2 separate regions of the Homo sapiens genome follow, and region 2 is linked to region 1. The links come from fine-mapping of genetic effects on gene expression. A gene starts in region 1. The other region holds a variant in brackets. All regions are shown on one strand. Distances are from middle to middle. Region 1 holds the start of HOPX (HOP homeobox). Region 2 has its middle 54 kb from the start of HOPX.

Region 1 (5,381 bases):
CCTGCAGGAAAAAAATTAGTGGCCAGCTACCTCCCTTATTTGCAGGCTGTTGAAATACTCTTAATTTTACTGAGAGCCAAAGCAAACTTATCTCACTGGGAAAAAAAAAAAAAAAAGCATAGAAAGAGAGAACTGATATAGTAAAACCCAATTGCCATGGCTGGACTGGTGCCCAAGCATGAAAGAAGTTTAGGTTATTGTATTTTAAAGGATCTCTTAGATTGGCAAAACTGTGGGTAGCACATTTCTGCTTCTTCACTAATAAATGAATCTTGATTTTGTTCAGATGATCAGAGCAATTTGTCTGGAGAAGGTGGATTCTTCCCTTAGACCCAGGAGAGGAACCATGATCAGCCTGATCCCTTTCCTCTTTGAAAATGATGGATTTAGCCAATGTGTTGGCTGACACAACCCAGTGCTCAGCAAGGAGACATAAGTGAAAGACTCCTAGTGATTTCTGAAAAGGTTTTCCTCTCTAACAAGGAAAGACACTTAGGAGAAAGAAAGCCTGGGACACTTTTTACCTGTCTTTGGATATTTTGTTTAAAGATATGATGAATGGAGCTACTGTAGCCATCTTACCACCATGAGGAGAGACAATGCTGTCACACTGAGAGCTACAAAATGAAAGATGGAAAAAGCTAGAGGTCTTGGTTTCATCACTGCACCCCCAATCAACCGGAACCATATACCTGCTACCTGCAGAGTCAAGTGATGTAAAAACTGCTTCATGGTTTCAATCACTTTTTCTTTAATCTCCATGATACACCGGATAAAGAGAAACAGCTTGAAGTTGACACATTATGCAAGAGAAAAAGAAATGTCTCATCTGAACCAGGATGAGACTCTGTTGATGCCAGGACCTCTATCTGTTGGGCTGTACTGCCTCCACGGGAATTTAGAAACTGAACAGATGGCACATATTTATTGAGCACCTACCAAGTGCCAGGCACTGTTCTGGATCACAGGAGTAAACAATGCAGAAAGGTCATTGTTGTCATGGAAATCACATTCTGGAAGACAGATGATAAACAAAAACACAATTAAGGATAGGTGAAAACACTCTTAGGCAACTTTCTAAGTATTGGTTCAAGCCAGTCCTGAGTGAAACCCTGACTCTGGAATCAGATAGAACTGGATTCAAATTCCACCCCCACCATTCACTGTGACCTTGGGAAAGTTATTTAGTCTTTCTGAGTATCAGTTTCCTCTTCTGTAAAATAACGATAATAAAAAAAACTAACTCAGCCGGGCATGGTGGCTCACGGCTGTAATCCCAGCACTTTGGGAGGCTGAGGCAGGAGGATCCCTTGAGCCCAGGAGTTTGAGACCAGCCTGGGCAACATGGTGTAATACTGTCTTTACAAAAAATTAGCCACTTCTGGTGGTGTGTGCCTGTGGTCCCAGCTACTTGGGAGGCTGAGGTGGGAGAATCACCTCAGCCCGGGAGGTCAAGGCTGCAGTGAGCCAAGATCGTGTCACTGCACTCCAGCCTGAGTGAAAAACAAAAAACAATACAACCTCATAGGGTTATTGTATTACATATTAAATAAGCAGACAAACTCTCTGTACAGTCCTTACATGGAGCCTGACACACAGTCAGTCTTACTAGATTATGGATCATCACCATTGTCATCATCATAATAATTTGTGCTGTCATAGTAATAATTTGTGCAACAACAATAATAATAATAATGCTGTGGGTATCAAATGATAAACAAGACATAGACCCTGCCCATTCAAAAAATCGTGGCAGCAAGAATCCAGATTTGGCCATAGAATGGTCAGAAGTTAGGCATTGAATTAGGCAGGAAACAAAAGAATTCCTCTGGTAACCAAGGTTGGGTTAACCTGGGCCCCCTGTCTCTACTCTTTCCCACACATGTTTTATAACCGTCACCCCCTTTTCCAAGAGGGAAAGAGGTATTCTGAATGAGCGCTGCTCTTCTTTCACATATGGCTACTGTTCCCAAGAGACTCAAGTGGGCTTTCTCTTTCTCTGCTGAAGTGAATAATATAGGGTGTGGCTCTCTGGATGGCACTTACCGGTTTGTGCTACAAACCAGCAAATACACACAGATAATCCCACAGATGATCTCACCAGACCTTGTCTCCCTTCCCTCATTCCCTCAAAATCATACCCACCTAATAATGTTTAGTGCACTGCAATTGAGTATTAGCTCCCGTATCTAGCTAATAAAATACGTAAACATCCAACAGCCGGGTCCTCACACCCACACACATACCCTCGCCTTTAGAAACATTTCCACGGATTGTCACACGAGCCCCTAAACTCTCTGTCACACTCTGCATGCATCTTCCCACAGACTTGCTCACACACTGGCTTTTTATTCGCAAGCCCATGGGGAATCTTTCACCTCTTAGACAGGAATTTCATTAACGAAGGGGAGGGGATGGTAAGAGGAAAGTACAGATGCAGGGGAAATAAATGAGAATCGTTTTTGAGGGAGACCTAAAACTGTATCATCCTAGCCCGAATCTCTCCCTTTTAACTGTTCTTTATGTGTACATTCTGTGCCCAAAAGAAAACAACCTTTCATTAATTGGGCAATTGTCCAGGCTCTTAGCTTGGCATCCAGCTCTCAGAGCTGTGAAATCAACCGCACCAGATCTACGCTTTGAAATGAGGCAACATCTAACTGGAAACTCGCTCAAAGTAAGGAAGTGGATGAGAAGACTCAGGGTCCCTTTTCTCTTCCCCGTCTTCTCTCAGCCACATCTCTCTTATCCTATCTTGGTGAAGAAGCTTGCTTGGCTAGGAGAGAGGTCAGGGACGAGAAGATAGTGACGAGAAAGTTCCATGAGACTCTCAGAAGTCCCAGCCTGAACATCAAACCTGAATAACCAGGAGAGACGTAACCTCGGCATACTTTCAGTGGTTTACCTCCTGCCCACGCTGCAGGTTTTTCAGGTCCTTGCTCGAGTGTGTGCTCATAGGCGTAAATAAACGTGCTATCAGCAGCCTGCGTCAGCCAGCCCAGCTATTTAAGCAGGCTGGCATCAGCAAACACAGCTTCCAAACCCAGGGCTTGCGCTTGCCTTTGCCTCTTCCACGTAAGTACCTTTCAAAGGTCTGCCTTTTATGCAGAGGAATGAGTTTGTGCAGGAACTAGACCAAAATGCTATCGTTACCGTATTTGCTCATCTGTTGGAAAACGGTAGAGGTGAAAGGGAGAATAGGAATGACAAGCTTACCCCCAAGCAGAAGCTAGGAAATGCTGCTGGGTGTAAGACATCAGTCCCTTACAAACAAAACTGCATGGGGTCGAGGGGAATTTGGAGGAAGGGGAGTTGGTGTTGGTCTTTTGGCCAAGCAGGTGAGATGTTTTTCTTACTCGCTTCTATTTTGGAAAGATAACTTTGAAACCAGCATTTGTCAGATGCCTATGATTTTCTCATTTAGAAGCAGATTATTGTTATTCTACATCCCAGACTTTTATCTAAAATCAGACATAATATCGTTTTAAAATATGTTTTGTGTTTGACAAGGGGAAGTGAGGGAGCTGTCTCTGGATGGAGAAGTGGCTTGATTTTGAATTTGCAGTTTATTGTTACTTCTGGTTCTCATAATACTTATTTATAACAACAAAAACAGTGATTTTTTTTTTTTGAGATGAAAAGGAATCCCAGGCTCTGGGGTTTAGAGAAAGTATAGGTTTGTGATATGTGAGTGGCATCCAAGTATTCAGGGTAAACTGTTAAGTAAAGTGGAATAAGAATCATTGAATAAAAAGGTACAATCTATCACATAGTTCAGATAAGAAGCTCTTAAAGAGAAAAGGAATGCAAACAGTTCCCATGAAGTGGCACTGCTACTGGACAGGGCCCTGTAGTGTGTTTAGTTAAGTAAGGTTAAGTATAACCAGGGCAGGCAGAGAACAAAACGAAGGTGCTGGGGAGGTGGGAAGGGAGGAGAAGGGAGGAGCAGATAGTAAAGGATTTATAATTAAACAACAGATTCATGAAAAGCAGATAGGAATAGAGCAGGGCATTAATTCCATAGTCTATCCCTTTGTATCAAGAATCTGGTGAAAGCCAAGGACCTTTCTCAGGTATTCATTCCTCGCTTCCTGAGCCTCCCCTTCCACCCCACACCCCAACCCACACCTTGACTCTCACTTTCTGGACTCCTAGAAGTCCACGGACCTAAATGAAGCTCATATGCTTATTATTATTTTTTTTTAACTGGGCTGAAGCTGCCGACTGAGGAACCTCTCCAGAAGTGGTGGCGAGTTAAAAACCTTCAACGTGGCAGGCACTTCTTAGCCACCAAACTGAAGCTTGGTTTTAAGTTCATGAAGGTCTTATGTCAATCAAGCAAATAATGATTAAGGGCTATATCTGAGAAAAGATAAGTTGAAGGCCAAGAGGAAGAGAAAAGAAAAAATGGATCTTGTTCTCAAAGAGCTTGAAATCTAAAGTCCAGGGAGATAATTAGATGTTATGTCCATGCACAAAATAGGATGTGTTGAGTGATTACATTTGTATAAAATGATAGAAAATGCAAACTAATCTATAGCAAAAAGAAAGTGGCTGGGTGCGGTGGCCCACGCCTGTAATCCCAGCACTTTGGGAGGCCGAGGTGAGCGGATCACTTGAGGTCAGGAGTTTGAGACCAGCCTGGCCAATATAGTGAAACCCCGTCTCTACTAAAAATACAAAAATTAGGCGGGCTTGGTGGTGGGCACCTGTAATCCCAGCTACTCGGGAGGCTGAGACAGGATAATTGCTTGAACCCGGGAGGCGGAGGTTGCAGTGAGCTGAGATTGTACCACTGCGCTCCAGCCTGGGCGACAGAGCAAGATTCTGTCTTAAGAAAAAAAAAAAAAAGAAAGAAAGAAGATCCATGGTTACTTGGGAAGGTAGGGGCAGGAGAAAAAATGTTTGGGGGGACTCCCAAGGTACACAGGAAACTTTTGAGGGTGATGGATATGTTCATTATTGTGACTGTGACCATTTCTTATATGGGAAGATTTATCAAATTGTGTACTTTAAACATTCAGTATTATAGCTGATTACTCCCAACAAACAATACTTTAACCACATTATTTTTATTTTTATTTTTTTGAGATAGGATCTCACTCTGTCACCCAGGCTGGAGTGCAGTAGCACGATCTCGGCTCACTGCAGCCTCTGCCTCCCAGGCTCAAGCAATCCTCCCACCTCAGCCTCCCAAGTAGCTGGGAACACAGACTTGTGCCACCACACCCAGCTGTAGAGATGGGGTTTTGCTATGTTGCCCAGGCTAGTCCCAAACTCCTGAGCTCAAGCGATCTGCCTGCCTTGGCCTCCCAAAGTGCTGGGATTACAGGTGTGAGCCACTGTGCCTAACCAACAATATAATTTTTAAATAAGTAAAA
Region 2 (5,381 bases), 54 kb after region 1:
AAGCTTACAATTATGACAGAAGGCAACGGGGGAACAGGCACATCACATGGCGAAAGCAGGAGCAAGTAAGAGAGAGTTGAGGGGGCAGGTGGCACACATTTTTAAATGACTAGATCTCATGTGAACTCAGAGAGAGAGCTCACTTATCACCAAGGGGATGGCCCCAAGCCATTCATGAGGGATCCACCCTTATGATCCAAACACCTCCCACCAGACCCCACCTCCAACACTGGGGACTACAATTCAACATGAGATTTGGGCACAACATCCAAACCATATCACAGCCCAATATGGTTTGGTTGTGTCCCACCCAAATCTCATCTTGAACCGCAGTTCCCATAATTCCCATGTGTCAGGGGAATGACTGGGTAGGAGGTAATTGAATCATGGGGGCAGTTACCCCTATGCTGTTCTCATGATAATGAATGAGTTCTCATGAGATATGATTGTTTTATAACAGGCTTCTCCCCCTTTGCTCAGCATTGCTCCTTCCTTCCACCACGTGAAGAAGGACGTGTTTGCTTCCCCTTCCGCCGTGATTGTGAGTTTCCTAAGGCCTCTCCAACCCTGTGGAACTGTGAGTTAATTGAACTTATTTCCTAATAAATTATAATTACTGCTGGGCAGTTCTTTATAGCAGTGTGAGAATGGACTAATACACAGCCCAAACTAAGACATCTCCAAAGAGAAACCCTGTACCTATTAGCAGCCAGTTTCCATTCTCTCCTCCCCTGAACCCCCAACCACTTATCTATTTTCTGTCTTTGTGAAGTTCCCTATTCTGGGTATCTTATATACGTAGAACCATATGATACATTGTCTCATGTCAGGATTTTTTCACATAGTATAATATTTTCAAGACCCAACCATGTTGTACACCACAAGGTCAAACAGCAACCATTTGGAATCTTTTGGAGGTTTAGAGAATTCAATTCCTTTTCAATCAAGTGTTAAACAAAGTTTATAGGAAGGCATTGTTTTGGACTAGTCTCCTGCACTAGGCTCCAGCAGACCAGACCAAACCAAAATGGAGTCATTTATGTTAGCTGAAGCAGGTAAATCCCCAAATGGACTAGCGTTCTCCTGAAAACAAGAGATTCACAGCAACCAGAAAAAGCCAAGTTTGCCTGAGTCAGCATAATAAGGAAGTCCCCTCTGCTTTAACCCTTATAAGAAGTGACCTGTAGTAAGCTTGTGTTAACCAATCTACTTTTTAAAATTATTGTTTCCTCTGTTCCAATGATGCATTCTGAAAAAATTTTTTAAAAATTATTGTTTCCTTGTTCCCACTTACAAAATCTATTCTGCCACACCCAGGAGAACACTCATTCTATTCTATAGATTGAAGTGTTGCCCAGTTATAGAATAGCTAATAAAATTCACTTAGATTTTTAAACTAAATGTGTCATAATTTTATCTTTTGATATAAGTTGCTCCATTTGTACCAACAAGTGAGAATTGTGAGTGAAAACCCCACCAATAGTTTTAGATTCTGCAATTAGTAAATAAGTCGTAGACCATCTCCAAAGCCAAGGAAGTTTCAAAACAATAGCAGCAACCTAAGAGGTCCTGTTTATAGGGTTAGCTGAGCCTAAATAAGGATAATAATTAGGGAACTTGCTTTGAACTGTTGGGGGAAAAAGCCACAGTAGGGCCAGATTTAACACATATGCCAGAGAGAAGGATTGTTTTGCTTTAAGGAGCTGAACAGCTAGCCAGAAGGAAGAGCGAACCTTCGGTATTTTTTTCCTGCTCTGGCCAACATCATCATTCCTTTCATCTTCTCTCATAAGGAAGCTACTATGTTGTCCAGTCCTGGTACAAAATACTTATTCCATAAAAGCACATGAGTCTCTAGCCTGACAATCAGAAGGGACTTTCCCTTCAATCTCTCCTCTTTTGTGCTCTGCACTCCTTAATGCTTGGGGGATGTGGAGAGCAGTAAGAAAAGCAAAGCCAAAGAATTATGATCTCTGGGTCATTTAATGAAGCTAGTTTATTTATTTATTTATTTTAGAGCCTGAGACTTACTTGGGGATATTAAAAAGTCTGATAAATTGATCCAAATTCCACAAATATGGACTAAATGCAGTTTCATTTCAGTACAGTAAACACTGCCAGAGTGGCTACAAGGTGGCAGACACAGGGCTGGTCACTGGGGTCCAGAGACGAATGAGGCCTTGACCCTGCTCTCACTAGATGGGTTCACTTAGCATCCAGCTCTGGAATTTAAGCAGATCTCCCAGGGGGCATGTATGTCCGTCTTATACAGTACAATTAATTACTCTCCAAGTCTGCATGCACCTTCAGAACTGAACTCAGGTTAAGGATCAAGCAGAAGCTCAGATGTGGTTTGAATAAGGATGTTGGCCTTCC[A/G]TGGTTAAAGGTGTAAAACCAGATGTATATAAGCTCACCCTGTGATGAGACATCCCTGCAGAGCCTCCTTAGCTGGTTTTCATCACATTTTGAGATCAGGACACCTTAGAGTCACTTACTCAGGAGGTGGAGAGGGAAAGGCTACCTCCTCCTGCCAATTGCTGCACTTTTCATTCCCAGTGGGTAACAGAAGGCTGGGCACCCAAACATATTATCTAGGCCCAGCTGTGAGGCTAAGATGACATATTGTCCTCTCTGTATATAGGAAATGCTAGAGGACTAGAAAGGCTGACAATAAGACTGTTAAGGACTTTGAAAAGATTTAGAGCTGCAAGGAACTGTGGAGAACATTTGAGTCCTGAGCAGTGGAAGCAAGAGGGGAGTGGTGAACAGAATGGCCACTGGAGCAAAGAGCTTGTTGTCATTGTCCTTCTTCTCCATGGGTATGGTGCCTCCCAGCGGTGGGCCACCCACCTGGGCCCTGGGGCTCCAGCCCACATGAAAAAACCTGGAGCCAAATACTGCCATTGCGGCCTCCCTGCTTAGTTGAGTAGAGATTGAATAAAGGTTTCATCAGACAACTCACAAAAAAGAAAGTCAATGGGCTCACACAATCCCCTTTCCACAGAAACAGGGCCTATCTTGGACAAAATTATAAATTCTGGACTGGTTTCTGAGGTCTTTTTGTAACCATCCAATGGGTTCATCTTGCTGGCTGCCCAGACAGAGCCAATTTATTGGGACAGAAATTGCAACAGAGAAAGAGTTTAATACATGTAGAGCCAGCTAACCAGAAGGCTGGAGATTTATTATTACTCAAATCAGCCTCCTTGAAAATTTGGAGGCTAGGATTTTTTAAAGATAGTTTGGTGGTGGGGGCTAGGGAATGGGTGCTGCTGATTGGTTGGGGATGCACTCATAGGGTGTGGAAATAGTCCTTCTGCCCTGAGTCCGCTTTTGGGGAGGAGCCACAGGACTAGTTGAGTCATGAGTGGACTCATCAGGTTGTGAGAAATGGAAAAGTCAGAAAAGACAACTCAAAAAGCAAATCTTATGTTCTACAATACTGATGTCATTTACAGGAGTAATTGGGGAAGTTACAAATCTTGTAACCTCTGGAACAATGGCAGGTTATCATTTAACTATGCATACATCTTAGCAGAATTCAAGCCCCTCTTGTAATCCTAACTTTGCAGACTTTAGTTTAGTTTTGGGAAGGGCTATTATTATCCTTGCTTTAAGGTTACACTATAAGCTAAATTTCTCCAAAAATTAGCTTGGCCCATGCCCAGGAATGACCAAGGACAGTTTGGAGGTTAAGGCCAAGATGGACTTGGTTAGGTCAGATCTCTTTTACTGTCATGTTTTTCTGTTATAATTTTTACAAAGGCAATTTCACTTTCATATTTTATTTCTCATCCCAGTCACCCATGGGAGGCTATGGCCTTTTCTTTTCCTTATCTTCATCTTCTTCCATTGAAACTTATCTGTCCTATGTCTCATTCCTTCAGTTTCCTCTCAGCTGAACTGTGTTGAGAGGTATCCAATGTCTCCAAAGGTGACCACATATGTGATGGTTGGCATCGGCTGGGAAGGGAAGTCTTACCACTTAGCAGCAGGGACCAGTGTGGCCAACCCACAGGGTAGCCACAGGGCTTTCTTGAAAGCTTCTTGGAGAAACCCTGGAGATTGTCTGGGAAACACACCTTCTGACTTCACTCTGTTGAGAAATAACTCCGGCTATCTGGAAGCTGAAATTTTACTAGGGGAGATAAGAACTACATACAAATAAAATACATGGCCTGTATTAGTCCGTTTTCATGCTGCTGATAAAGATATACTGAAATTGGGAAGAAAAGGAGGTTTAATTTGACTTACATTTCCACATGGCTGGGGAGGCCTCAGAATCATGGCGGGAGGTGAAAGGCACTTCTTACATGGCAGCAGCAAGAGGAAGATGAGGAAAAAGCAAAAGTGGAAACCCCTGATAAACCCATCAGATCTTGTGACACTTATTCACTATCATGAGAATAGCACGGGAAAGACTGGCCCCCATGATTCAATTACCTCCCCCTGGATCCTCCCATAACCTGTGGGAATTCTGGGAGATACAATTCAAGTTGAGATTTGGGTGGGAACATAGCCAAACCATATCATTCCGCCCCTGGCCCCTCCAAATCTCATGTGCTCACATTTCAAAACCAATCATGCCTTCCCAACAGTCCCCCAAAGTCTTAACTCATTTCAGCATTAACCCAAAGTGCACAGTACAAAGTCTCATTTGAAACAAGGCAAATCCCTTCCTCCTATGAGCCTGTAAAATCAAAAGCAAGCTAGTTACTTCCTAGATACAATGGGAGTACAGGTATTGTGTACATACAGTCATGCCAAATGGGAGAAATTGGCCAAACCAAAGGGGTAGCAGGCCCCATATAAGTCTGAAACCCAGCAGGGCAGTCAAATTTTAAAGATCCTAAATGATCTCCTTTGACTCCAGGTCTCACATCCAGGTCACCCACAAGAGATGGGTTCCCATGGTCTTGAGCAGCTGTACCCCTGTGGCTTTGCAGGGTAGAGCCTCCCTCCTGGCTGCTTTCACAGGCTTGCATTGAATGTCTGCAGCTTTTCCAGGTGCACAGTACAAGCTGTTGGTGGATCTACCATTCTGGGGTCTGGAGGACAGTGACCCTCTTCTCTCAGCTCCACTAGGCAGTGCCCCAGTAGGGACTCTGTGTGGGGGCTCTGACCCCACATTTCCCTTCCACACTGCCCTAGAAGAGGTTCTCCATGAGGGCCCCGCCCTGCAGCAAACTTTTGCCTGGACATCCAAGTATTTCCATACATCTTCTGAAATCTAAGTGGAGGTTCCCAAACCTCAATTCTTGACTTCTGTGCACCCGCAGGCTCAACACCAAGTGGAAGCTGCCAAGGCTTGAAGCTTCCACCCTCTGAAGCCACAGCTCGAGCTCTGTGTTGGCCCTTTTCAGCCAAGGCTGGAGCAGATG

What was found. PIP is the estimated chance that this variant, and not a neighbour inherited with it, causes the effect.
Region 2: its variant is the best candidate, but not a certain one, in a credible set for the expression of HOPX in whole blood (TOPMed, PIP 0.64).

Annotation. Positions count from the first base shown.
Region 1 is chr4:56,678,949-56,684,329 of GRCh38, reverse strand. HOPX (HOP homeobox) reads left to right here and starts at 3,034. Exons shown (of 4, transcript NM_032495.6): 1 at 3,034-3,075. LOC105377666 (a long non-coding RNA gene) reads right to left here and starts at 1,097. Exons shown (of 3, transcript XR_941078.3): 1 at 940-1,097. RefSeq lists a silencer at 2,987-3,036.
Region 2 is chr4:56,624,603-56,629,983 of GRCh38, reverse strand. It overlaps a transcript of SPMAP2L not described here. Among named protein-coding and RNA genes, the nearest start is that of HOPX, 54 kb to the left of the region's middle. The variant A/G (reference allele first, on the strand shown) is at 2,377.